Homo sapiens: one gene and its partners. The protein of the gene in region 1 interacts with the protein of each later gene in a pairwise test. Each region holds a gene or a part of one and is shown in the gene's direction. Other genes may lie near its edges.

What was found.
Region 2: the proteins of USP20 (region 1) and C1QTNF2 interact in binary tests that used the Homo sapiens proteins (3 or more experiments, as listed by UniProt).
Region 3: the proteins of USP20 (region 1) and VAX1 interact in binary tests that used the Homo sapiens proteins (3 or more experiments, as listed by UniProt).
Region 4: the proteins of USP20 (region 1) and VAPA interact in binary tests that used the Homo sapiens proteins (3 or more experiments, as listed by UniProt).

What each region holds. Positions count from the first base shown.
Region 1 is NC_000009.12:129,873,435-129,880,458, forward strand, and holds part of USP20 (ubiquitin carboxyl-terminal hydrolase 20), read left to right. Parts: intron 1-47; coding exon 48-81; intron 82-264; coding exon 265-310; intron 311-1,141; coding exon 1,142-1,322; intron 1,323-1,394; coding exon 1,395-1,521; intron 1,522-1,875; coding exon 1,876-2,045; intron 2,046-2,125; coding exon 2,126-2,207; intron 2,208-2,695; coding exon 2,696-2,804; intron 2,805-4,903; coding exon 4,904-5,006; intron 5,007-6,138; coding exon 6,139-6,210; intron 6,211-6,678; coding exon 6,679-6,839; 3' UTR 6,840-6,855; exon of another isoform or gene 6,856-7,024.
Region 2 is NC_000005.10:160,353,605-160,360,628, reverse strand, and holds part of C1QTNF2 (complement C1q tumor necrosis factor-related protein 2 isoform 1 precursor), read left to right. Parts: intron 1-5,285; exon of another isoform or gene 5,286-5,357; coding exon of another isoform or gene 5,358-5,402; intron 5,403-5,608; coding exon of another isoform or gene 5,609-5,617; coding exon 5,618-5,861; intron 5,862-7,024. UniProt on the Homo sapiens protein: Involved in the regulation of lipid metabolism in adipose tissue and liver.
Region 3 is NC_000010.11:117,135,262-117,142,158, reverse strand, and holds the start of VAX1 (ventral anterior homeobox 1), read left to right. Parts: upstream 1-3,888; 5' UTR 3,889-4,102; coding exon 4,103-4,343; intron 4,344-5,499; coding exon 5,500-5,687; intron 5,688-6,897. UniProt on the Homo sapiens protein: Transcription factor that may function in dorsoventral specification of the forebrain. Required for axon guidance and major tract formation in the developing forebrain.
Region 4 is NC_000018.10:9,931,007-9,938,030, forward strand, and holds part of VAPA (vesicle-associated membrane protein-associated protein A), read left to right. Parts: intron 1-803; coding exon 804-956; intron 957-5,103; coding exon 5,104-5,207; intron 5,208-5,979; coding exon 5,980-6,060; intron 6,061-7,024. UniProt on the Homo sapiens protein: Endoplasmic reticulum (ER)-anchored protein that mediates the formation of contact sites between the ER and endosomes via interaction with FFAT motif-containing proteins such as STARD3 or WDR44.

The sequences.
Region 1 (7,024 bases):
CATTTTGCATCCTTGCTAACCTCTGACCCTTTGTTTTACTGCCCTAGGTGACAACATGTACAGCTGTGAGCGGTGTAAGAAGTAAGTGAGCCTTCCCCCGCCTTCTCCCTAACTGCCGTTTCTGTGCCCTACATATTCCCCTTGGGTTCCTGCAGAGAGCCCCCTATAATCCTGCCTTCCCAGAAGGGAGCCGGGTGGAGGGCTGCTTCCCTGGCCCCTGGCCCTGATGCCGGACACTGATGCTGGCTCGTGCTTCCTCCCCAGGCTGCGGAACGGAGTGAAGTACTGCAAAGTCCTGCGGTTGCCCGAGGTGAGCCAGTGGCCTCGGCAGCCTCCTCCTCAGCTATCTCGGGATGCACACCAGCACACACCAGGCAGGGGCTGAGCCTGCTCCACTGCTCGGGCACTTCTGTGCTGCAGGGGCCGTGGAGACTCCATAGCTTTGGCTGAGAAACCTCTGGGAAGGGTTGGCAGGGGGCACATTTTTCCAACTGTGACTTGGTGCCCTCTCTCGGTAGCCTCAGCACATGTTGTCTAACATGTTGTATGAGGGCCCAATGGGAGGCAGGTGTGTGGGACACTGGGTTACCACCCCCAGTGAGACAGCTATGGCTCCTGCCAGCTGCAGAGTGGCGGGAGGAGAGCTGGTCCAGCTGGGGCTGTTGCCAGGGGTCTTTCTGAGGAGTAACGTCTGAGTGGGGCCTGGAGGGTGTAGGCTGGTGTCAGCGTCGTGGATGGAAGGCACAGAAGGAACAGACAAAACCCCAGTGCAGGAGCAGGCTTGTCCGCACCAAGGAAGGCACGTGTGGCTGGAGCAAAGAGGAGAGGGCCCTGGCAGAGGGGGCCCAGGTTGGGGCTGTGGTGGCTCGGGGAGGCTTTGTGGCTTCTCAAAGGTAGTGCCGACAGAACTGGTAAACTTGATGGCTCATTGCAGCTCTTGGGGTCCAGTTCTCAGCAGTGGAGCTGGGAGTGATCTGTGTGACTTAGAGCGAGCCCAGTCTGGCCCCCACGTGGAACTCTTGGATTTGTTCCAATGGAGTCAGCTTGCATGATCCCATCAGCTGTCCTGGGCCCGTGGGCAAGGCTGCGAGGGCCCGCATCATTTCTTCCTAGATGACCGGCGCTCTCTCTGTCCCCGCAGATCCTGTGCATTCACCTAAAGCGCTTTCGGCACGAGGTGATGTACTCATTCAAGATCAACAGCCACGTCTCCTTCCCCCTCGAGGGGCTCGACCTGCGCCCCTTCCTTGCCAAGGAGTGCACATCCCAGATCACCACCTACGACCTCCTCTCGGTCATCTGCCACCACGGCACGGCAGGCAGTGAGTCATGTCCCCTCCCCTGCCGTCCCCATCCGCTAGGATCCCTGTGACCCGTCTGCTCTGCCGCCGCAGGTGGGCACTACATCGCCTACTGCCAGAACGTGATCAATGGGCAGTGGTACGAGTTTGATGACCAGTACGTCACAGAAGTCCACGAGACGGTGGTGCAGAACGCCGAGGGCTACGTACTCTTCTACAGGTGGGCGCTGGGCCAGGCCTGGTGGAGGAACCTCACCATCCCCGTCCCCTGGGACCCATGGGCCTTCTGGGTGTGTGTAGGGGACAGCGCCTGGATTAAGCCAGGGAAGTAAGGACTTGGATTGTTAAGAAACAGCCCTCTGGCTGCTGTGGGGAACCCAGGAAGGCAGCTTGGAGCCTTCTCCAGGGCCCTGGCTGGCGGCACAGGGGGCTGCTCACATGTCCAGGACCCGTGAAGGACCCAGGAGGTGGTGGACAGGGCCGGTAGCCCGAGGTGCACTGGGATGGGGGCTCTGCATGTGTCTGAAGGTGGCAGCCGTCAGGCACAGCTTCTCGCCCCCTCCTCACCCCACAGGAAGAGCAGCGAGGAGGCCATGCGGGAGCGACAGCAGGTGGTGTCCCTGGCCGCCATGCGGGAGCCCAGCCTGCTGCGGTTCTACGTGTCCCGCGAGTGGCTCAACAAGTTCAACACCTTCGCGGAGCCAGGCCCCATCACCAACCAGACCTTCCTCTGCTCCCACGGAGGTGAGGCGCCCCCTGTGGTGGGAGAGCAGGGTGGGCAGCTGGGCCGAGCCACAGCTTCGCTCCCTGTACCTTCTTCCCAGGCATCCCGCCCCACAAATACCACTACATCGACGACCTGGTGGTCATCCTGCCCCAGAACGTCTGGGAGCACCTGTACAACAGGTGAGAGCCTGGGAGGCCAACTTGTCTCCGTCCTGTCCAGGGCCCAGCTGGGCAGGAAAAGAGGGGAGGGCAGGGAAGGAATGCCACCAGGACCCCACACCACACTCTGGCCTCCACGTGGGCAGCACAGAGCCGCCTTCACTTGTCTCATGGAGAATGACACATGTCGTTTGTGGGAATCCGCTTGGATCCTTCCAGCGGCAAGGGACAGGAAACTGGCTGAAGCACAGCTGAGTGTGTTGGCCATCTGCTGAAGCACAGCTGAGTGTGTTGGCCATCTGCTCTTCAGCCTTGAAGCAGGACCTCCCTTGGGCTGTGGGCGCGCTGCTCCGTTGCAGGCTCTGTGGTGCTCACACAGAGGTGCATGCAGGCCTGCGACAGCGCTGAGGGGGCACTGATGGCTTGAGGGGGAAGTGGAAGGCAGTGATCACTCTCCCCTCCCTGGTACCCCGCTCAGGCCGTGTCTCTCTCTCCCACCCTGGGCACAGATTCGGGGGTGGCCCCGCCGTGAACCACCTGTACGTGTGCTCCATCTGCCAGGTGGAGATCGAGGCACTGGCCAAGCGCAGGAGGATCGAGATCGACACCTTCATCAAGGTGCGTGCGGCGAGGCGGCGCGGGGGCGGCTCTGCCAGCCTCTGCCTGGGGCAGCTGGGGACTTGGGGACAGAAGAATCCTGTGCAGTCCCTGAGCAAGTTTGAAAGCAGTCTTTTGAGGCTGGGCATGGTGGCTCACACCTGTAATCCCAGCACTTTGGGAGGCTGAGACGAACAGATCACTTGAGGTCAGGAGTTTGAAACCAGCCTGGCCAACATGGCAAAACCCCGTCTCTACTAAAAATACAAAAATTAGCTGGGCTTGGTGGCAGGTGCCTGTAATCCCAGCTACTTGGGAGGCTGAGGCAGGATAATCGCTTGAACCTGGGAGGCGGAGGTTTCAGTGAGCTGAGATTGTGCCACTGCGCTCCAGCCTGGGCAACCGAGTAAGACTCCATCTCAAAAAAAAAAAAAAAAGAAAAAGAAAAGAAAGGAGTCTTCTGCGGGGAACTAGATGGCCAGGTGTCTAGGAGGGCTTTTCCTGGTGGGAGGGTTGGCTTGAGTAAGTGAAGCCTCATCGCCCGGGTGCTGTTGAGCTTAAAGAACCAGTAGATGGATCCCATTCTCAGCCTTGGCTGTGTTATTTTGGGCTGAATTATTCTTTATTGTGGGGCCGTCCTGTGCATTGTAGGATGTTTAGCAGCATTCTTGGCCTCTACCCACTAGTGCTAGTGACAACCAAAATGACCTCCAGAGATTGCCCAGGGTCCCCTGGGGTGCAGAGTACCCTCCCTGCCCTGGGTGAGAACCACTGGGCTCTACAGACTGCCCAAGATAAAGCAGGAAGTGAAAACCAAGGTGCAAACCAGGACTCAAGTGTGACTGTGTTTAGAAGAGGGACTTCTGTGAGGGAGCTGAGTGCAGGCGAGGCTCCTGGCGCACTCCCTCCCTGCCACGCTACTTCTAACAGGGTTAGGACGTGTTCCACTCACAGGGAGGGCCTGGTGAGAGACACTGAGGGACGCCCGTGCTTTGTGGCCATTAGGAAATGATTCTGCTGCCTGGGCATGGTGGCTCACGCCTGTGATCCCAGCACTTTGGGAGGCCGAGGCAGGTGGATCACTTGAGCCCAGGAGTTCAAGACCAACTTGGCCAACATGGCGAAACCCCATCTCTACAAACAATACAAAAATTAGCCAGGCATGGTGATGTGTACCTGTAGTCCCCGCTACCTGGAGGGCTGAGTGAGTTGGGAGGATCACCTAAGCCTGGGAGGTTGAGGCTGCAGTGAGCCGTGATCATGCCACTGCACCGCAGCCTGGGCAATAGAGTGAGACCCTGTCTCAGAACACAAACGAAAAAGAGACTGTCAGGGCTGGGCCTAGTGGTATGCACCTGTGGTCCAACCTACTCAGGAGGCTGAGGTGGGAGGATCACTTGAGCCCAGGAGGTCAAGGCTGCAGTGAGCCATGATTGCGCCGCTGCACTCCCGCCTGGGCACAGAGTGAGACCACCCCCCATCTCGAAAAAGAAAATGCTCCTGTCAGAAGGAGAGCTGCCTCTCTGAGCAGATAGGCACATTCTATTCAACCGGAGAAAATTAGCATCTCCCAGGCCGGGCGCAGTGGTTCATGCCTGTTATCCCAGCACTTTTGAGAGGTCGAGGTGGGCGGATCACCTGAGGTCAGGAGTTCAAGACCAGCCTGGCCAACATGGCGAAACCCCGTCTCTACTAAAAACACAAAAAGTAGCCAGGTGGTGGCACACACCTGTAATCCCAGCTACTCAAGAGGCTGAGGTGGGAGAATCGCTTGAACCTGGGAGGCAGAGGTTGCAGTAAGCCGAGATCGCGCCACTGCACTCCAGCCTGGGTGACAGAGTGAGATTCCTTCTCAAAAAGTAGAATCTCCCTTGTGGTCTCAGTTGGGTCAAACAGTTATTGAAGAGACCCACAAAATGTTACCACCGTCCTCTCTGAGTGATGGGTGTGTTCATTTTGTTTGAGCTTGTCTGGGGGTTTGATTTTTCACCTTGAGTATCTGGTGTTTTTGTAAGACTCTTGGGTGAGGGACTGGGGCGGGGGCATTTGGGAAATCCTTGCTGAAGGTAAATAGAGACTGACCTGCCCTCTGTCTCCTCCCGTCCCTGCCCGCCTGCCAGTTGAACAAGGCCTTCCAGGCCGAGGAGTCGCCGGGCGTCATCTACTGCATCAGCATGCAGTGGTTCCGGGAGTGGGAGGCGTTCGTCAAGGGGAAGGACAACGGTGAGCTGAGGGGGGACCTGGCACTTACCTGCCCTGGGGGCCTCCTGGGAGATGGGATGCTGGCAGGGGAGGGCTGGCACACAGGGGCTCCTGCAGGCCCCATGCCTGCCCCCAGGTGCCACCCATCCAGGGTGAACAGAGAGCATGGGGCTTTGCCAGTCCCCAGTGGGGATCACTGTCCCCACCCAGAGGCAGGAAGCTGCTCCTGCTCTGCGCCCCCTGCCCTTCTCCACTCCCTGCCATGCCCAGCAAGCTGCTCTGCCCTCCTGCAAGGCCCTTTCCTCAGGGGAGTGTGTCGCCCGAAATGACAGATTTGTCATCTGACTCCTTGGATTTACAGAGGTGGAGACAGGCCCCATCACAAGCTCCCAGGGTCCCCCAAGTCCCCAGTGAAGAACAGCAGAACCAAGCCATGGAAGCCCACAGGCTCTAAACTATTAAACCTGCATTAAAAATTTCGGCTGGGGCGCCCTCGGGGCATAATCTAACCTGTGGCTCCGGGGCCCGGCAGGGTGGGTAGAGCCCACGGTTCTGCTCACGGGACCCTTGGTGTGGAGCATGAGCACCCACCTGTGCTTGGGAAGGGAGGCCTCATTGCCATCCCGCTAGTCGGGGAAGGTGCCAGGGCCACCGTGAGGCCTCTCTGGTGGTGGCTGAGGCCTTCAGCATGGCTGTGGTTGAGAATGTAGCTCCGGAGCCCTCGCCCTGGCCTGGACGCTGGCCTTGCCTTCTACCAGCTATGACCTGAGTGGTTACTTCACCTTCCCAGGCCTCGGCTCTGTCTCTGTAAACCTCTGTCTTGTCCTGTGGTTGCCGAGGCTAAATGAGATAGCTGGGCAGAGGGGAAGGGGCGTGGTGAGCGGCAGCTGCCAGCAGAGATAAGGGCATGGGCCATCCACCGCAGCTCCTGCGGCCAGCACAGAGTCTGAGACCATCTCGTGTGTCCTGGAAATTCCCTCTGCTGGGTCCTCAGACTGCCACAGAGGAGCATTGGGTGGCTCAGGCGCCTCATCCATTAGAGACTTCACGCTGACCCCCAGGCCTGGGGCGGCCCCACTTGGGATGGCTCTGCTGCTGTGGAGGGTGGAGGGCATGGCAGGGGCTGAACCCGAGCCCGCTGTGTCTGTTGCAGAGCCCCCCGGGCCCATTGACAACAGCAGGATTGCACAGGTCAAAGGAAGCGGCCATGTCCAGCTGAAGCAGGGTGAGTTCCCCCTGGGGTCAGCCAGGCTCCTCTCTGCCCTTCCTGGCTGCCAGGCTGCTGCCCAGTCCCGTCCTTCCAGGAGCCCCCTTACCACCTGTCTTAGAGTCAGGCTGAGACGTCCACCTGAGTCCAGACCCAGGCGGCTGAGAGATGGCCCAAGGGGCTTGGTCTCTGCTTGTGTCCTCCAGGTCCCACCCCTCTGCCTGCTGCTGGCCTTGCCCACCCTGCTGTTTATGTCAGCCCCACCCCCAGGAACAAGGGACACAGCCAGAGATGTGTTATCCGGGGCCCTTAGCGGGATGGACATTCCTCTGGGAAATCCTGATTTCCATCTGACAGCTTTGCATAGAAGCCCTGGTTGCCGTCTTCCCGCTTCGGGGCCTGGCCCTGCGGAGCCCCCACTGCCCAGGCCGGTGGCTTCCTTGAGGAGGCAAAGGTGAGCCTAGGGGTGCCTCTCGTGCCCTGCAGGAGCTGACTACGGGCAGATTTCGGAGGAGACCTGGACCTACCTGAACAGCCTGTATGGAGGTGGCCCCGAGATTGCCATCCGCCAGAGTGTGGCGCAGCCGCTGGGCCCAGAGAACCTGCACGGGGAGCAGAAGATCGAAGCCGAGACGCGGGCCGTGTGATCTGCTGGGCTAGTCTGTAAGTCGCCCCGGCTGGTCCCTCCATGGCACTCTGGGTCCTCTCCTCACTCTCCAGAGACCCTCACATGTCCTTTTGAACATCCAAAGAGCAGGTCCCTGAAAGCACCTTCCTGGAGGATGTGGGAGGGCCCTGGACATGGCCCGGCCCCACTGCTGAGTGCCCGTGT
Region 2 (7,024 bases), on another chromosome or scaffold:
GAAAGGACTAATACTTACCTCTCTTCTGGTTAATTGGACAGCTCTCTATGGAGCACCTACTCTATCTAAGGCATTCTGCAAGGCTGGCCCCACCCTAGGGGCCAGAGAGGGAACAACCTAGCCCCTATACTGTAAGGGGTCAAAAGCAAGGAGGGATTTGATCTGATTCGGGTTAGAAAAGCAGAGGAAAAAAGAACAGATTTGTATCAAGGGGTGTCAGTGCTCTCTCTTCTGGATTTCAGCCACTGTCTGGTTTTCTCTTCGCTGTGGATTTTCTTGAGGGCAGAGTCTGCGTCTCCAACACTTACTAATTAAGCAAATATTTCTTGAACATTCACTGTGTGTGAGGAAGTTTGAAGCCAGGTGGCCAGCTGGGGTCCTGTACTCATGGAGCTTACATTTTAGTGGAGACACATGGGGGAGGCAACCAAGTAAAGTGAATATGGGTGAGTGGTTTCAAGTGCTGGAAAAGAAACAAAGAGCTGGGAAAAGGGAGCTTGCAGAAAGCGGGCGCTGGCTGAGAGGGCACATCAGGGAATGCCTGGAGGAAGTGACATTTAAACTGAAATACAGCAGATAAAGAGCCAGCAAACCAAGAGGGTGGAGCCGTGAGGTTACTGGTGGAGTGGCTGGTGCCTTGGGGCTGAATGGAGCTTGGCCTAGAAAAGGTAGGGGGGGTGGGTGCTGGGCCAGAGGAGCCGAGGGAGCCAGGGAGGAGCTGAGGCTGGGGCAGGGGCTAGAGCCAGCTCAACTGGGGCATTGTAAGCCATGGCCTGGGTTCTGATGTTTGCTATTTTAAGCCAGCACCTATTGGAGGGTCTTGGGGAGTGACACCCTGATCTTTTGGTTCAGGCCTTGGAAACTCCCCCATTAACACACCAGAGGGGCTTATGGTGGGGACCCAGGGCCCAGGAGGCTGTCCCCTCCACGCCTCTCATCACCTTGTCTAATCCAAGTGTGGGCCTCTCAAAGGACAGGAGGTTTTGCTCAAGCATTGATTTACTCCAGCACCCCAAGAGAGAGAAAAAGCATCACTTGTACGTTTTCAAAGTCATGTACTGTGTGTGTAAAAATTGTAAAATAAAATACAGGGCATCAGAGAGATTTCTCTATGGCTGTGTGTGGTTTTGGCATATGCTTCAAGGTCTTTTCTGTAATGTGGAATATTTAGGGGGAAAAATATAAGAAATGCTGACATAATGGAAAGCATTTGGGTACTAGGATCAGCCAAACCCAAGTTCAAATATAACTTCTGCCACTAACTACTTGTGTAAACATAAGTAAATTAGCCTCTCCAAGTTTCAATGTCTTTTATAAAATGGGGGGAAAATAGCAGGGGCAGGAAGCAAGGTGGCATGGATTAAGCATAGTTTTCAGAGGCACACAGACATGGGTTTGGATGCCATCTCCATTAATCCCTGATTGTGTGACTCTGGGTAAATAACTTCACTTCTTGGAGTATCTGTTTTTTCCTCTGAAAAAAAAAATGGGACAATAAGGGCTCAGGTAAGCTTCATAGGGCTCTAGTAAGCTTTGTATAAAACAATGCAGCAGGCTGGATGCGGTGGCTCACGCCTGTAATCTCAGCACTTTGGGAGGCTGAAACGGGTAGATCGCTGGACTGGAGTTTGAGACCAGCGGATGACATGGCAAGACCCCATCTCTACAAAAAATACAAAAATTAGCTGGGCATGGTGGCACGCTCCTATAGTCCCAGCTTCTCGGGAGGCTGAGGAGGGAGAAACACTTGAGTCCGAGAGGTGGAGGTTGCAGTGAGCCGAGATCACGCCACTGCACTCCAGCCTGGGCGACAAAGTGAGATAAAAAAAGCAATGTAGATACAGGGCTTCACACAGTGCCTGGAACATTGTAGGTGCGTAATAAGGTCAGTTTGCTTCTGCCTTGGTTTCCCCATCTGTAACTGAAGAGGTTGGATTAGATGGTTCCTTGAGGCCCTCCCCAAGTTCTTGATTCTAAATGTATTTAAAAGGTGCTAGCTGAGAGTGGTGGCACACTCCTGTAGGTCCACCTACTTGGGACAGAAGGCTGAGGCAGGAGGATCACTTGAGCCCAAGAGTTCAAGGCTGTAGTAAGCTCTTGCACCACGCACTCCAGCCTGGGCAACAGAGCAAGACCCCCATCCCTAAAAAGAAAAAAAAAAATTAAAGAAAGGCCCTGGAAGAGTTAATCTGCCTGGATTCCTTGGGGCTTTAGTGCCCCTCTAAGCACCCTGCCCCCCAGGCTTTCTCGACACCCTTGTGTAGAGAGTGGGGTGAGGGTGGGGCAGGGCACAAGCTGGGAGCAGGGCTATTTGTAGCCTTGTTTTTCTTGGAGGTGTTGTGGAGGCAAGGAGACTCTCCTCTCCCTCCCTTCCTCTAGGTTTGGAACTAGAATCTAGTCTCCCCGCCTTTATTTCCAAAACAGTTCCTGGCTCTAGCTCCCAAGACTCCTCTGGGACTCCAGGAGCTTCAGGCTCCAGTTCAGAAAACGCTTCCTCCCTGTGTGTCTCAGACACACACCCTTCCACCCAGGCACTGGGGCCTGCCCCAAACCAGCTTTCGCAGACAGGCATTCCCTCTTTGTCCAGAGAAGCTGGTGCAAGGCCATTGTGGGCAAGAGAGCAAATCCGCCTTCCTCTTGTGGAGCCTGTGTGGCTGGGCATGGAGGTCAGAAGAGAGAGGGGAGTTGTCAGCTGTGACAGATGGTTCCCTTTCTCTCCCTCTCTCTCGTCCGGCTGGCTCTCTTTTCTGCCTGTCTCTCTCCCTCTCTCTCGTCCGGCTGGCTCTCTTTTCTGCCAGTCTCTCTCCCTCTCTCTCGTCCGGCTGGCTCTCTTTTCTGCCAGTCTCTCTCCCTCTCTCTCGTCCGGCTGGCTCTCTTTTCTGCCTGTCTTCAGCTAGCTGTTTGCAGGATTCTCATCTGCCTCGAAGACTCGCTTCCACTTACTCCCTCCTTCTCTCCCTACTGCAAAATGGTTGTAGACTGCAACTTTCCAAATCATTTCGAACCTGCTTTAAAAATTCAGTTTCTATTCTGGGGGTCCCAGATGTGCTGCAGCTCACAAATAAGGCCAACCAGTTTTCCAAGACTCTCCTAACGTAGACAGGGAAAGAAATGGTGATTCACAGGGCCTGGGGAGTGTCTAGGCCATAGTTTTCCAAAAGCACCTGTCATTCATGTAACATTTCCATGATGTTTGCCGTACCTGCCTACCATCTCTACTATTATTTATCCAACCTAGGTTGAGCAAGTGTGACATCAGAAATACAATCAAACTGCATCCTTATTTTTGCCTACCCCTCCCTACTTATAATTTAGTCAGTGAGGGGAGCTCCTCCTCCCCCTGGTTGAAGTCTCCACTCCCAGGCAACCCACACCTCAATTTCCATTCGAAGGTGAGATTTCTTCCTGCTCCCCCAGTGAAGGTGTGAAACGGGCAAGGCCATCTGCTCCCCTTGTCAGCTCACCTGTTTCCAAGTTGAAGGGAGGGGAGGTACAGGGACAGGAGGAGGATTTCTAGATGTTTCACGACTGGGGCGGGCCTAGACTGCTCTGTGTCTCTGTGCCTGGCAGACATTTAAAGCTGTCTTTTCCATGGGGGCCTTTTGCAGGCTCTTTGGGAGTAACCATTTTGGGCCCTGTGATTGTCACACTGCTGGGATGTGGGCAATGAACATTTTCCTTTCTCTGCAAGTCTAGGCCTTCCCCTCAGCATCTGTTTCCAGGGTTAAAGATCCTGGAGGGGGCAGGAGGAGAGGTATGGTCAGCCTGTTTCTGAGGGGAACAGCCAGAGGCAGCCGAAAAGCCTGGACAGGCTCCAAGAGCCAGGGGCCAAGCAGAGTCTGAAGGGAAAGGGGATTGAAAGCCCAGAAGGAAAAATGAGTTCCAAAGGTCAATGCCTGAGTAATGCCCCTGCTGTGCAACCAGGACCACAGCTGCCGAGGATCCCCCTAATACTTAAACGCTCTGATTGGATAGCCACAGGCTGAGTGAGGACTACAAAGCCCACAGTGCTTTGTATCTGGAAAGAGAACAGATTGAAGTCTGAAAGGCTCAGCATTGGAGCTAGAAGAGACCCTAGAGACCATCTACTCTAGTGGTTCCCAAAACAAGGTCTCTGGACCACCATCAGCAGCATCCCTTGGAAACTTATTAGAAATGCAAATGGTCCAGCTTCACCCCAGAACTAATGAATCAGAAACTTTGGGGATAAGGCCCAACAACCTGTGTGCTAACAAGCCCTCGAGGTGAGTGTGATGCGCACTGAAGTTTAGGAACCACTGCTCTAGCCCAGCCCCTGTTGTTCAGGTGAGGAAACTGAGGCCCAGAGAGGGAAAAGGGTTTGCCTAAGGTCACAAAGCAAGTTGCCATTTTATAGTTAATCGCCATGGCAGGAAGTCATGCCTGGGATGTTCCCCCTCCTGGTTTCATTCTTGAGAGAGAGGCTGTTAATTACAAAGCAAAGGAACTGATTTGTTGAGAGATCTTGGGCAAGTTGCTTATTTCTGCTCTGGGTCTCAGTTTCTGCGTATGCATAGTGAGGGCAGGGAGTAGATACCTCCAGGTGCATAGCACACTGATCTCCAGTGGGATCGTGCTATTGCTGCCATCAGCCTTAAGGACACGGTCTAGCCTGGGACAGGAGGGCACAGGCTCTGGATCTGGACAGCCTGGTTCAAACCTTAGCCCTGCCATCTACTCATCGCATGATGTAGACCAGGAGTGTCCAATCTTTTGGCTTCCCTGTGCCACATTGGAAGAAGAATTGTCTTGGGCCACACATAAAATACACTAACGATAGGTGATGAGCTTAAAAAAAAATCGCAAGAAATATCTCATGATGTTTTAAGAAAGTTTACAAAACTTGTGTTGGGCTGCATTCAAAGCCATCCTGGGGTGCATGCGGCCCACAGGCCCCGGGTTGGAAAAGCGTGATGTAGACACATTGCTCAACTTCTCTGAGCCTCCGCTTCTTCTCCTGTATCTATTCTATAAGGGTATTGTGAAGATCAAGTAATGAATGGAAAGCTCTTAGCACATGCCTGGCGCACAGGAAGCGCTTGGGGGAGGAGCTGCTACCACGGCCTGCCAGGGTCACTCAGGTGATGGTTGACCTCCACTCAGTAACTGAATCCTCAGCCCTCCTCATGTGCAACCCTGAGTCTCCCATGAGAAGCAGACTAGTTGCAAAGTCACCTACAATTCAAACATTACCCTTGTAGAACTGTAACTTTCTATTCATGCCACAGATTTGGATGAAACCATGGATCATTTCTCTCCATTCACAGCTCCTCCCAGTCATCAGTCTCTGGGTCATAAGTTCTGCATCCATTTCAGCCACTCTGGAAGATGATGGTCTGATGATGAATGCCTCACCCCCGAGACCCCTTCGAAGTGTATTCTGGGTAATGACTCCACTCACCCAAATATGTCCTCAAGATATGACGACTCTGTCCACATCACATCTACTTGTATGTGATGCAGGAAAGAGCAAGAGACAGAAATCCAACTGAGTGTATCCCAGCTGCCTCCTCCTGTGCATCCCCTCTGACCAGCCCCAGGTCAGCTTGGTGGCCACACTCACCTGTCACAGCTCTCTTGCCTCCCACAGGTAACCACCATGATCCCCTGGGTGCTCCTGGCCTGTGCCCTCCCCTGTGCTGCTGACCCACTGCTTGGCGCCTTTGCTCGCAGGGACTTCCGGAAAGGCTCCCCTCAACTGGTCTGCAGCCTGCCTGGCCCCCAGGGCCCACCCGGCCCCCCAGGAGCCCCAGGGCCCTCAGGAATGATGGGACGAATGGGCTTTCCTGGCAAAGACGGCCAAGATGGACACGACGGCGACCGGGGGGACAGCGGAGAGGAAGGTAAGAGGCCTATACGTGCCACTCTCGTTCCCACCTGGCTGACAGCATCCGGCATGTGGGGGGCATCATGAAGTTAATAAAACTAGTATTAATCCTCTTCATTATAAATCAAATTACTATTTACTTATAAATCTATATATATATATATATATATATATATATATATATACTTTTTTTTTTTTTCCCCTTGAGACAGAGGCTTGCTCTGTCGCCCAGGCTGGTGTGCAGTGACATGATCTCAGCTCACTGCAACCTCTGCCTCCTGGGATCAAGCAATTCTCCTGCCTCAGCCTCCTGAGTAGCTGGAATTACAGATGCATGCCACCATTCCTGGCTAATTTTTGTATTTTTTAGTAGAGAGGGGGTTTCACCATGTTGGCCAGGCTGGTCTCAAACTCCTGACCTCAAGTGATCCATCTACCTCGCCCTTCCAAAGTGCTGGGATTACAGGCATGGGCCACTGTGCCCGGCCTCAGAGCAGTTTATTCTGAAAGGAACATGGGTATTGAATTTTGTGTTCCTGCCCCCGGTGCACCTTTGGGTTGCTAAGTGACTTTGGAAAAGTCTCCCAAAATATTACTGAGAACTCTTGATAATTGCAAGTGACAGAAACTCAATTTATAGTCCCAAATGGAATGTATTAGCCCATAAAACTGAGACATCAGGCCAGGCGCGGTGGCTCACACCTGTAATCTCAGCACTTGGGAGGCCGAGGTGGACAGATCACTTGAGGCCAGGAGTTCAAGACTAGCCAGGCCAACATGGCAAAACCCCATCTCTACTAAAAATACAAAAAATTAGCCAGGTCTGGTGGTGTATGCCTGTAATCCCAGCTACTCTGGAGGCTGAGGTAGGAGAATTGCTTGAACCCAGGAGGCAGAGGTTGGAGTGAGTTGAGATCGTGCCACTGCACTCCAGCCTGGGAAACAGAGCAGGACAGTGTCTCAAAAAAAAAAAAAAAAAAAAAAAAAAAAAAAAAGCCTGAGAAGTCCAAGAGCCAAGCTCCAGGAATAGCTGAGTCCAGGAGCTCAAATATCATTGTCACGGCTCTGCTTCTCTCTGTGTTTGTTGTATCCTCACAAAGGCTAGAAGTTCTGAAATAGCACTGCTGGGCTCCGGCCCACATCTTCCTGGCTTCATCCACAGAGCAAATCTCAGAACAG
Region 3 (6,897 bases), on another chromosome or scaffold:
TGCAAATTCCTGGACACTGCTCTCAGATGATCATTCTGTAAGTTTGAAACCCAGGAAATGATTTTTTACTCACCCCCAATCAGCTAGTAGATGAGTGATAAACTCCTAATAAATGCTCATGGCCAGAAATAAATAGCATCATCAGAAACAAGAATTTCATGATTCCATTTCTACTTACTGTTGTTTAGATAAAATTTGTGAAAATTGATGTCTAATAATAAGGATTCCTCGCATTAACATTAAAGTCATTGCTCTGTGTCTTTTTGATACACACATGATCACCTGAAGATTTGGAAAATTCAAAGCAAGTATGGGTTTGGAACTAAAAATGGGGCAGTCTTGTGGGGTGTGGCAAAGAAGAGCATAAATAGCTTTGAAGTCAGGCAGAAGTCAATTCAAATTCTGCTCATACCAGTCTGTGTGACTTGGGCAAGTTACTGAACGTCTCTCTGAGTCTCCATTCTTTCACCTATAAAACCGGAATATTACTACATCTCTGAAGGAGGAGTTCAGATTAAGTGAGTTTATGCATCCAGTAAGTGACTGCTTCATAAATAATTCCCCTGGACACGTTGGCTCACGTCTGTACTCCCAGCTACTCAGGAGGTTGAGGTGGGAGGATCGCTTGAGCCTGGGAATTCGAGGCTACAGTGAGCCGTGATGGTGCTACTGCACTCCAGCCTGGGCGACAGAGCGAGAACCTGTCTCAAAAATAAGTAAGTTTAAAAAACAAACAAACAGGCTGGGCTTTGTGGCTCATGTCTGTAATCCCAGCACTTTGGGAGGCCAAGGCGGGCGGATCACGAGGTCAAGAGATCGAGACCATCCTGGCCAACATGGTGAAACCCTGTCTCCAATAAAAACACAAAAATTAGCTGGGCGTGGTGGCGCGCGCCTGTAGTCCCAGCTACTCAGGTGGCTGAGGCAGGAGAATCTCTTGAACTCGGGAGGCGAAGGTTGTAGTGAGCGTAGATCGCGCCATTGCACTCCAGCCTGGCGACAGAGTGAGACTCCGTCTCAGACAAACAACAAACAAACAAACAAATAGTTCCCCCTTACAACAAAATATGCCACAAGATGAGGGAGGGCAGAAATTTCCGAGGCCAAACTTAAAATTTGCATTTGGGATTTGGCCATACTTTGGCCGTTCTCTGTGGCAGTGAATGCGGCTGCAGACGTCCCAGCGCCGCCATTGCCCACAGGGCGTGTCATTTCTAAGGGCAGCTGTTTGTTCCCTGACTGCCCCCGCCCCGCCCCCCAGCTCCCCCATCTACCTAAAAGAAAATGTAATGGGTTGGGCCATTTTTATTTTTTAAAAAGCTTTCTTCCAGGTCTTTGACCGGGCGCCGCAGGTGTCCGCATGGGTTTCCCAGGCCGCTGCGGCCTTCACCGACAGAAGGAGGCCGTACAGAGGGGTGCGGCCGGGCCGGGGACCCAGAGCCATCTGGGTCCCATTTGGGCCAAGGCTGCGGTTTGGGACTTCCGCCGCCTGCAGGGCTCCTAAAGGGCTGAGGAAGGCCTAGAATCCTCCTGCGCACCCGATCTCGCGTAGTCCGAGGGTCCGACCCCTCCAACCCCTCCAGGGTAGGGGGCAAGGAAGGGCCGGTGTGCCAGGGAATTCGGTCGCACCCCTCCCTGCCCAAGGAGGCCCAGGAGCTCCCTCGGGCCGAGCTCTGCAGGGAAGTGAATGCCCCATCTGCTGCAGGGACCCCCATCAGGAGGACCCGAATCCCAGGGACCCGCACCCGCGACGCGGTAGTGGGAGTCAAGACCCGGCGGCTGCACCCCCGACGGCTTGGCCGCATGGGAGCAAAGCCCTCGGTGCCTCAAGGCGCCAGTCTGGGCTTTTGAGCGTTGCGGGAGGTAACAGGAGAGTTCGCCGGATTTTAACACAATCCCACTCTACATCTTCAGAACAGGGTGGCCGCAAAGTCCCTTACCCCTCTTACCCGTCTCTGCTCCCACCCGCCTCACCAACCCGCCGGAGCAGAGCTCGTAATCAAAGGCACTTTCCCCGGGCGCCCAGTCGGCGTCGGACTTCGAGGGCAGCGTGCGCAGCGAAGCCGGGCTGAGGGGCGATCAGCCCGCTGGGGACCCTGGAAACCCGCCGCCCTGCGGAGAGTAGCTCGGGACAGTTCCACCGCTCCGCCCAGTCAACTAAAGTGGAAGCCTGATGTCGGCCTGCAGGGCCAGAGATGCCCTCCGGAGCTGGGCCAAACCTGGGTGCCCCTAAGTGGCTGGAGGGGTGGCTGGGTGGACAGCGCGAAAGACCCCGCTCAGGGGGCCCCCTCCTGGCTTGGGACGGTAGAGGGGTCCCGCGGGGTGGCGGCGGAGGCAGGGGAGGTGGCGGCGGGGCGGGAGGTGCGGACGGTGCGCGCGTCGCTGCGAGCTGGAGCCCCTAGGGGCCCGCCACACACACTCGCACCCCTCCCCCTCCCGGCCTTCCTCCCACCCGCTCGCCGCGACCCCCTCCCCAACCCCCTCCCCTCCCCCCGCCTCCGCCCCATTCTTGGAATTGTGTGGAAAAATTCTCAGCCAAACCTCCCACCTCTCCTCTCCCCCCACCCACCCCCTTTAAAAAACCCCTTTCCTCCCCGGCCCCTGCACTCTTTGTGAATGAGGGCAGGGAACACGGCCCTTCCCCCGCCCAGGAGCCACGCCAGACCGCCGCACTCAGAGGACTGTTTGTTAATAGTCCAATTAGATAATTGCCATCTTTCACTCCTTTTGCTCCGCATTTCCCATAAAGGAATGAATGGGGAGAGCGGCGTGGAGAGGGCTTCTGCCCCGGCAAGGTGACGAGAAGGGCTGGAGCATGCTCCTTGCACAAGGCCATGCGCTTGAATTGAATCATTGTAGCCTAATCAATGCTCTTATTGGATTACTGGCTGTTGCTTTTCTCAAAGATATTGTAGCAGAGACAATGAAATAGCTAGGGGAAAACTTTTTTTTTTTTTTTTTGAAGCAGATCTCACAGTTGAGATTTCTCGGCCGTCTCTCCCTCTCCCCCTCTCTCTCCTGCTGGACTCTGAGTACAAAGCTGCCCTTTGAATGGGCTGCCTCAGGGCTGCTGGAGGTGCAGGCATGAAAAAATCCAACTGGAACTAAATGAAGAGAGGTGGCAGTTTAAGATGGCTGTCTGCGTCGAGGTGTGTTAAGAAGGAGTTGTTTAGGGGAAAATCTTGGCTTTTTTAGAGTGCAAGGGAGATACTTTTTGGGAAAACTTTCTCCCCCCGCTCTGTCCCCCATCCCCCACTCCCAGACAACTGCTTTCTTCTGCCGCAGGGTGCGCAGGGTTTTTTTTTTCTCCCCCCACACCCCCCCGCCGCCCAACCCTCATTCAGCTCTATCTGGCGAGTGTGGAGAAAACCCCTCTAGCCAGTATGTGAGCAGGAGGGTCAAAGGCAAAAGGAAAGTTAATAATGCCTGCTAATGGTACTAACAATTCAGGATGAATCTTGTCAAAAGTTTTTCTGGAAGTGTGGGTCTTTGATTGTGTGTTTCCTGAAAGCAAGACCAATCATTTCCGTTTATTCACTGGCTAAACCCCTACTTGATTGGGGACAAGGACAGAAACCATCCATTACGATCTGATATATTATCCAAACAATTTAGTGTATTCATGAGGTAACCGAAACGTGGGGGCTGCGAAATTACCCGTAATCAATTGCAACAGCGAGTGTGCGTCCCCCCGGGTGTCGGACAACTACAACTCGCCGTCTCAGAAACAGGCGGGAGCCGCAGCATTTCGGAGTTGCGCTGTTCGCTACCTGATCGCCAGGCTGGGGACACTGGACGTGCTCAGAGGACGCGGGTGCTGACGAGGCGGCCTCGCCGCAGCTCCACCAGGATCCTGGACCAGACTGGCCGCCTCTCGGCGAGCGCGCCACTCTCCCGTCGCCGCTGACCCGCGCGCGGCCGCCGAAGCCTCCCCGCGGGGACATTCATTCTTGCCCCTTGCCTGTCGCCGGGCCGGGCGTACGGGCCGCGTTGTCGGGGGTTTTGTCCCCTTTTTCCTCTTTTTTTTTTCCTTCTCCGCCCCCCCCCCTTTTTTTTTTTTTTGCTTTTTTTTTCCTTTCTGTTTTTGTTGTTGTTCTTGCCTATGTTCGGGAAACCAGACAAAATGGACGTTCGATGCCACTCGGACGCCGAGGCTGCCCGGGTCTCGAAGAACGCGCACAAGGAGAGTCGGGAGAGCAAGGGCGCGGAGGGGAACCTCCCAGCCGCCTTCCTCAAGGAGCCGCAGGGCGCCTTCTCAGCGTCGGGCGCTGCTGAGGATTGTAACAAAAGTAAATCCAATTCCGCAGCGGACCCGGATTACTGCCGCCGGATCCTGGTCCGAGGTAGGGATGGGCAGGGCTGCCAGGCGCGTTCTTTGGGGTCGACTCCGGGGCCGGAGCTGCGCGCTGCCGCCGACACAGGCCGGTGGGAAGGAGTGCCGGCTGGGACTTGGGAGAAAGTTGTTGGCCCTCCCCGCCCCGAGTCCGGCTGGGGACAAGCGCCTGGGACTCTCCGGTGCGCTCTCCAGGGGCCTCGGCCCTCCACGCCCGGAGGGGCCCCGCTGACCGGGCTGCGGGGGGAGATGAGGGGCTGCGCGGGTGCGGCCGGGCATCGGGCTGCGGCCTCCGACCCGGGAAAGGAGCAGAAAACTCCGGGAGGAGGTGTGCGCGCTCCAAGGGCCGGACGACCTGCCGGGAGCCGGCCAGGGGACTCCCGCGCTCTGGAGGGCTGAGCGCACCCAAGGGGGAACGCGAGCCCCGGAGAACAGCTGCCGATCGCGGGCTACGGCCCTGCCAGTTAGTGCACTGGGCCGAGGACCCCACGGCCGCGATCGGTGCCCGACCGCTGCCGCCGGGAGAGGCAGCTGGGCTTGGTTACGGAGCCGCGGTTGCCGCTTTGGTGCTCTGCTCTGCCGCTCTCGGATGGCGCGGCGTGCACTTAGCCCCGGCGGCGGAGGCTGCGAGGCCGGGCCCCGGCCCGGCGCCGCCCCAGCCAGCAGCAGATCTCCGGGCCCGGCCGGCCCCGACTCAGTCCCTCCTCCTTCCGCCGCGCGGACTCCGGAGGGAAGGAGACTCGAGGGTGGGGGTGGGGACGTCTGGATCACGGTCTGGTCGGCAAGCCCAGAGCTGGGGCCCGCAGGACCCGGGCGGGGCGACAAGGGTACCCTCAGGCTACAGGGGACCCGGAAGGCTCAGCCGAGGCCCCCCCAGGCCGGAAGAAACGTCCGCCTATGTGGAATTGATTGGATTTTTTTCTCTCCCCTGTCTGGAGGACTCTACAAAAAGACAAAGTGTGGTCCCTCCTTCGGTCAGCGGTATGGAGTTAGGCCCCTTGCCCTCCACACAGTGTCTTTGCTACCTGGTTGTGGTCGCGCTCCGCACCCCGCCCCCCATCCCCAAAACTGCACGCTTCTGGGGACTGTGTCCCCAAATCCAGCTCGGGCCAAGGAGGTGGAGGGGGACGGGAGGGTTCTGGCGGCTGACATCTCCCCTTCCCCAGATGCCAAGGGGTCCATCCGAGAGATCATCCTGCCCAAGGGCCTGGACTTGGACCGGCCTAAGAGGACGCGCACGTCCTTCACCGCGGAGCAGCTCTATCGGCTGGAGATGGAGTTCCAGCGCTGCCAGTACGTGGTGGGCCGCGAGAGGACCGAGCTCGCCCGGCAGCTTAACCTCTCCGAGACCCAGGTACCCGGCGACCAGGCCGCACACAGTTCTGCACCAGCCTTCCTCCCCACCACCCCTACCTAGCCTGCTCTTCACCTCCTAACCTGCTCTGGACAGAACTACCCTTGGGAGGTGGAGGAGATGGGAAGGATGGGTAAGACAGGCCTAAGGATTCCTTCCCCTAGATAATACATCCTTTCCCCCCACCATTCCTGCCATCCCCAAATCCTCCAGGGCCCATGTTTTATCCACCTTGGCCTAGGCCCAGAAGGCCCCAAATCCTGTCCTTTTGGAATTTTTATTGTCCCCCGGTTTTGAGCATTTCCTTCGAGCTTCTGCTCTACAAAGAACTGACTTTTGCCCTTGTTTGGGGTACCCCATTTTGGCTAGATTTCTAGGCCCCACCCCTTGTGGGCCCACCCAGCTGTACTCAGCGTCCAGGCCCATTCTACAGGAGTGAGGCTAGATCTAACACCCCCTGCCCCAGCACCATGGGTGATTCCCAGGAATTAGGTGTACGCCCTCCTGGAGATCTGCCTGTGCAGATCAGGCTGCCCTGACCCTTAAAGGAAGGCTTTCCCCATTCTGAGCTGGCCCCAGCCCTGAGCACCTAGGAGACCCTGTCTTCTGGGCCAGTGATGTGTGAGGTGTGTGATGGGAAGGAGATCTAGGACCCAGAAGCCAGTACTGCTGATTGTGCTTTAGATCTTTCCCTTTACATTAAATCCATATGATGCCCCTTGGAGCTGGCCATGTGGGCTCTGGGCCCAGGAGAGGACCCAAGAACTTGCCAAGTGGCATGTCACCAGCTTGGCCTAGCTACGGCAGCCTTCTTTCTGAAGACTGATCCTTTTCCCCATGCCCAACCCTGAAGCAGGTGGAGAGCATTTTAGGTCCGGGATCTGGGCTGAAAGCTGAGGACTGACAGAACAGATAGGGGTGTTCTTTTTGAGTTTGAGTTGGTATGGTAGCTTTTTCTATTCTCTCTGCTACTACTCCTCTTAGTTTATAAAATCTAGATAGGATAGTCTTTGCCTATTGCTGCAAAACTCTTCTGGGCCACTGCTAGGCCTGCAGAGGGGCAGAAGAATGAGAGGGGAGGTTAGTGGGGAATATTCAATCCACCTCAGCCTCCTGACTTTCTCCCATGATTCCAAGTTCATGACTCAGACCAGTGGAGAGATAAACTAAGAGTATCACCAGACCCTTCAATGCAGCTATCTGGTGAGAA
Region 4 (7,024 bases), on another chromosome or scaffold:
AGCCTTCTAGCTTTTTTAAAAAATACATAACTTTAAACGAATTGTTTTTAGAACGATTTAAAATTACTTTTGGAATACTTAGAACTGTGGTTATTGTTCCCAACTGGAACATGTTTTTATGTTCTTCCTCCAAATTAACAGGTATTTATTTTGTTGTCTAAATTAATCTGCATAATTTTTCTTCAGGCTTTTCTTCAGCAAAATGGATCAGCCTTTTGGGTTCTTTGTTTTGTAATTTTATGTTGTTTGGGTGCAGAACCAAAGCTTAAAAACTTTGTATCTAGAGCATATGGCATAATAAACACTTAACAAATATGTGAATGAATGAATGGATTGAATGAATGAACAAACAAAATTGAGGTGAAGCAAAAGCACTGATGTCATAGGGTGTAGGGTCTTCAGATGTAGAGATTTTTGCAGTTGGCCTAGTAAAATGAACTTGAAGATTGACACTGGTTTGCAGACAACTGGGAAATTCTGTTATTTTCAGCAACGTATTAACAACATACTGTAAAAATACAGTTGTAAAGTTCATAGATCCAAAGTTTCATAGTACTTTTTTGATAGAAATCATACATGTTTATGGTAGAAATTTTGTGAAATACAGGGAATGAAGAAGAAAATATGACTTGTTTTTAAGTCTGCCACCTCGAGAAAGGCAGTGTTAGTAGCCATTTGGGATATTTATGCCTACAAATGTCAGCACTTAATTAAAATTGAGGTTATATATTTTCAGTTTTGAATCCTTCGTTGTTGAGAATCCAATTAAATTTTGTTTTCTCTTTAATTTTTAAACTTTACAGGCCCCTTCACAGATGTAGTCACTACAAATCTTAAATTGCGAAATCCATCGGATAGAAAAGTGTGTTTCAAAGTGAAGACTACAGCACCTCGCCGGTACTGTGTGAGGCCCAACAGTGGAATTATTGACCCAGGGTCAACTGTGACTGTTTCAGGTAGCAAATCATGTTCTGAATTTATGTACATTTGAATTTTGACCTTTTATGATTATGTTTTTGTTTAATAAGGTTTCATCTGGAGGGAGGGAAATAATTCTTATATTATTCTGGTTTTGCCTTTAAAGATGTCTTGTTACAGTACTCTGCAAGCTGTTTCAGAAAATTTCTCACTCATCTTCTGTGTAGGGAGTGTGGTCAGTTTATAAGAAATTATTGTCAATTACAAACTTTAGTCTTTATTTCTACAGCTAACCACTACCTTCTCTGCCTTTGTTATTTTATCTTTGAAAAATTATATCATTTTTCTGATGGGTCATTCTCCTTCAGATCATGATCATATTACACATTGCATGCAGCTATAGAAGTGTCATAATTCTTTTGCTTAAAAAGGTGCAATGCCACTTTTTTGCCTACTGTGTCAAATCAGATGAGTCTTTATGCCTTTCATTGTAAATGTCAACAGTGTCCTGTGTGTGAAAACTTTATTTTTATTTTACTACTCTCTTATGTGTTTACTTGTCAAAGAAGTATGCTTGCCATATATGGATTACTTACTCCTGCTGTGGAGTTGATACTGGTACCATATCTAATGCCCCCTATAAACTGTTTCTTTCTTTCTCAGTCCCTCTGACTTCACTAATATAGCTGAGAAATAGGAAATAGGAAGTAAATATGAGAACTTTTATGGTTCCATGTATTTTACTTAGGGGAGAACCTCTCAGGCTGCATTTACTCTTTCTTTACAGCAGTACTTCTCAACTCCCACTATATGCTGTAATAACACAGGGAGCAGGAACACACATGGATTCATCTCTCCCAGATTGGAATCTCTAGGAGCATGACTTAGAAATGTTACATTTAGGCCGGGCGCGGTGGCTTATGCCTGTAATCCCAGCACTTTGGGAGGCCGAGGCGGGTGGATCACGACGTCAGGAGTTCAAGACCAGCCTGGCCAAGATGGTGAAACCCCATCTCTACTAAAAATACAAAAAATTAGTCGGGTGTGGTGGTGGGCGCCTGTAGTCCCAGCTACTTGGGAGGCTGAGGCAGAGAATTGCTTAAAACCAGGAAGTGGAGGTTGCAGTGAGCGGAGACTGCACGAGTAAGACTCCGTCTCAAAACAAACAAACAAAAAAAGTGTACCTTAAAAAAAAAAAAAGCCTGGGTGATCTTGATAAGTAATCCTAAGATATTATAATAATTCTGTATCAGTTTTCAAGTCCACAGCAGAATTGGGTACAGAGAGAGAGAACCCAGGGTAGGCTCATTGAGAGAGTATTTAGAGGTGGAGCCTGACTACAAAGGCCATGAAGGACAGACCATAGAGTTCTTGGTGACACTAAATCTTCCCTCAGCAGGTATAGCCAAAAACCTCAAGAGCTAGGAAAAAGATGTTTTAGTGAGTCTTGCGGTAAGGAGGCCTGGGAGGAGTGCTTTTCATGTTTCTTTGCTAAGTCTAATTCATCAGTTCCTGGGAAAGAGAGATGGGAAATAAAGATGAAGGAATGCATGCACTCTGCATGTTGCTGCTTTCTACTACATCTTTAAGCCTTTAGCACAATTGGAAGAAGAGAGAATTCTTTCTTTTTTGAGACAGTGTCTTGCTTTGTTGCCCAGGTAGGAGAGCAGTGGTGTGATCTCAGGTGACTGCAACTTCCGCCTCCTGGATTCAAGTGATTTTCCTGCCTCAGCCACTTGAGTAGCTAGGATTACGGGCGTGTGCCAACATGCCTGGCTCATTTTTGTATTTTTAGTAGAGGCAGGGTTTCACCATGTTGGCCAGGCTGGTCTCGAACTCCTGACCTCAAGTGATCCATCTACCTTAGCCTCCCCAAATGCTGGGATTACAGGCGTGAGCCACTGCGCCTGGCCAGAAGATATAATTATTTCAATCCACATGGCTAAAAATAGTTTATTGGTACAAACAGTTATATCCCTAGGAATCCATACAACTATGCAGAATGACTTTTTCTTTGAGGGGCCTAGATTGCTGGTTTCTGTGTATTAATATTTCTTGAGAAAACAACGTATCAAAACACTTTCTCCCACAGAAACCTGACTTATTAAAACCTTCAGACAAACTGGTTACTGATTACGCAAACATGCCCTTGGATTGTTCTACTTAATTAGAATTTGGCTTTTCCAGTTTTTAGTGTAGTGTATTTCCATTTACAGTCACTCAAAGCTATGCTTCTTCCAACAACCTTCTCTGGTTAATTCTCTGTACTACATGCTCATTTCTCTTTTTCCCTGTGTCCTTTTGACGCTTTGTTTTTTGAATTTGCTTCAATTTGTGCACATTTTTATATATGTTTTCAAGATCGTCTTTGTCTTGTTATGTGGTCTGCAACCTAAATTAGAGTATAACTCCTATAAACTTAACCATGTTGTAAGTTTTCGTTTTATTCACAAATTTTTGGTTCATAGTGATTAGCTTATAATCATTAACTCAGTGAAGGTTGCTAATGGAATTTTATTTAGCTTAAGCTGTATTCTGAGGCATTTTATCCAGTACATTTCCTGCTGCTGTGTATTTGGCCCCTTGAAAAAGTTGTCTTAACCTTGATAGCAGTTAATGGACTTCTCAGACACACCTTATGAATAAGACTTTATTACATAATTATTTCTTACATTTATTTACCCGTGTTTATCTTTTTGAAAGTGTAGAGATATATCTTAGAAATAATCTAAAGTTAGGGAAATAATTTCTATAATGCCATGTACATATTTTGTGTAACTGTTGATTGATTCTTTGTATAGTCTGTTATATTGGACTCATGTTACATAAATTTAGCATGACTTACAACCACATGGAACCTTAGAAAACTTAAAAGACGAGAAATTATAAATGCTTAAAAATTGCTCACGCCTGTAATCCCAGCACTTTGGGAGGCTGAGACGGGCGGATCTTGAGGTCAGGAGATCGAGACCATCCTGGATAACACGGTGAAACCCCGTCTCTACTAAAAATACAAAAAAATTAGCCGGGCATGGTGGCAGGCGCCTGTAGTCCCAGCTACTCGGGAGGCTGAGGCAGGAGAATGGCGTGAACCTGGGAGGCAGAGCTTGCAGTGAGCCGAGATTGTACCGCTGCACTCCAGCCTGGGCGACAGAGCAAGACTCCGTCTCAAAAAAAAAAAAAAAAAAACTTAAAAATTTTGAATGTTATTGAGACTGTAGAATAAATTTTAGAACTCAAGAGGCTATATGGTTTCCTTGTGTACTTTTGTTTTCTTAGAAGATTTAAATAAATTCATAAACTCTGAAATAGATGTTTATTTAAAATACAATTTTGAAAAATTAATTATATTAAAACAATATATGGGCTGGGTGCTGTGGCTTACGCCTGTAATCCTAGCACTTCGGGAGGCTGAGGAGGGCGGATCTCTTGAGCCCAGGAATTCTATACCAGCCTGGGCAAAATGACGAAAACCCTTTCTCTACAAAAAAATACAAAAATTAGCTGGGCATGGTGGCATGTGGCTATAGTCTTAGCTATTTAGGAGCCTGAAGTGGGAGGATTGCCTGAGCCTAGGGAGGTTGAGGCTACAGTGAGCTGAGATTGCGCCACTGCACTGCAGCGCAGCCTCAGCCACAGAGTGAGACCCTGTTTTAAAAAACAAAAAACAGATGGTAGTGAGGTTTTAAGTTACTGAGTATTTCTCCTTTAAATATCTCAGTTGTATAATTTTAAATCAGAAAACACTAAAATGAAGCCTAAATTCATAGTTTTAATAACTTATATTTAATCTGAGCTTATAGGCATTATAGTTAACGTTGGCAAAGTTTTGAAAATTTTCACAAGCTGAGTTTAGAAAGGGCAAAATCATAGATTCATATTTAATTTTTAATTGTAATTGTTTATTTTGTTGGTTGTGCAAAACTTAGTAAATTAGAAAGACAGACAATTTAAAAATACTTGGGATCCATTAAGTTGATTCTTAAACATTCCAGTGTTTGGTTTCTTGAACCCTTCTTGGTTTTTTTTAAATTTGCATATTTGTGAAGTAGTAGGAATGATACTATTGCCAGATACGGTTTAAGGCAAATCCCAGACTTAGTATAATTTAATCTGTAACTGTTTCAATGTATGTCTTTCAGACATGCAGGAGACAATATAATATATCCTTTTTTTCTTATTTAGTAATGCTACAGCCCTTTGACTATGATCCGAATGAAAAGAGTAAACACAAGTTTATGGTACAGACAATTTTTGCTCCACCAAACACTTCAGATATGGAAGCTGTGGTAAGTATAGAAGAAGAATTTGTTTTGGGAAGTGGAGTTTAAACTGTGGGTGTTGTTTAGCAGTCAGTAGAAAAACTTAATTTCTAAAAACTAAAAGTTAAATTTAGGTTTTTAAAAAACTGCCAATTTCTTCATTATAGATAATCCTAACTTAAAGAATGAAAGAATTTTTAAATAGTATTTTTTTTTAGAAACAATTTAGAAATGCTGCTACTGGCCTGGTGCAGTGGCTCACACCTGTAATCCCAGCCCTTTGGGAGGCCAAGATGGGAGTATCTCAAGCCCAGGAGTTCGAGACCAGCTCAGGCGACATGACAAGACCCTGTCTCTACAAAAACAAACAAACAAACAAACAAAAAACAAAAAAAACCACCACAACAAAAATGAGCTGGGTATAGTGTTGGACGCCTGTAGTCCCAGCTACCCAGGAGGCATGGGAGGATTGATTGCTTGAGCCCAGGAGGGGCGACTGCACTCCAGCCTGGGAAACAGAATGAGACCAACTGGAAAAAAAGAAAGAAATGCTAAGAAGAAAGTCCTATGGTTGCTAGTAATATCATCGTGATTTTAATGGATGGTGATAGTAACTAGGATTATATAAAGGTTCTGTGACATTAGCCGATAACAATGGCAGGGTGATCAATAAAGAGTGCACCAGTGTGTTTCAGCCAAGCCAGGCAGCTTCACTCATCTTTTAGCTGTCCCGTGAGGTGAAACTTACTTACCATGATCATACCTCCTATGTCTCATGTTTGGTTTTGTTTATTTTTAGTGGAAAGAGGCAAAACCTGATGAATTAATGGATTCCAAATTGAGATGCGTATTTGAAATGCCCAATGAAAATGATAAATTGGTAAGTAGGAGAATGTAAAAAAAATTGGGAGCTGTTGAGCTCTCAGTTCCTTTGATTAATTTTGCTTTTATTTTTGACCTTTGAGGTATGTGTGATATGGCTATTACACTTCATAAGACTCAGTGGTTAAGTTTTAAAAAACTTGGTATGCCTTTTTTTTTTTTTTTTTTAAAGTAACATTTTGTTTATCCAAGAAGAAAGAAAGACTCACTTTTAGGTCAAGACTGCATCCTGGAGAAGAATCATTTAAGTCTACCAGATTTTTTGTGACGTAAACCACTGCAGGTTCTTTTTTAGAATGAGATGTGTATACATAATTTAAAAATACATATAAATTGCTTTTTGGCCACTATGTACCGGCAGTTTGGGGATAAATTCACTTACATGGACAGTTTATTCCAGGTTTAGTTATTCCTAGGTATTTTGCTCACTTTTGTTTTTAGTCAAATCCATCTGATTGTATTCTTTAGTAAATAATTATTATGTTGCTTACTCATTAGTGTAAGTCTAATACAATTTGGGGGACTGAGGGATGTATTTGTTTATTCAAAAACAAACAAAAAATAGTCTGTGAATGTACCGAGTGGGTTGTAGTCACTTACCTTGTCCATTTCCCTGTCTGGATTGCAAATTTGAATCTTTTCCTATGGTGAGAGAGACTTGAAAGATAAATTTTTCTGTGTGTGTATGTGACTTAATACATACAATAATATGGATAAATAGAATGGTGTGGCACAATTTGGTTACAATCTGACATGACTACTGCCTTAATCTAGTGGCCATTTGCTCTATTGAAAAGTAAACATGCAGATTAAATATGTGGGCTCAGTTATTGTGTTCCTCTTTCAGGATAAGCAGAAATGAAAAGGTCTCTGGTAATTAGGTGTTGACCAAATTATATTTTGAATTTTTAAAATGCCTCTTTTAAGTGATTTTTGAGGTATTTGCCAAAAGCAAAAAATTG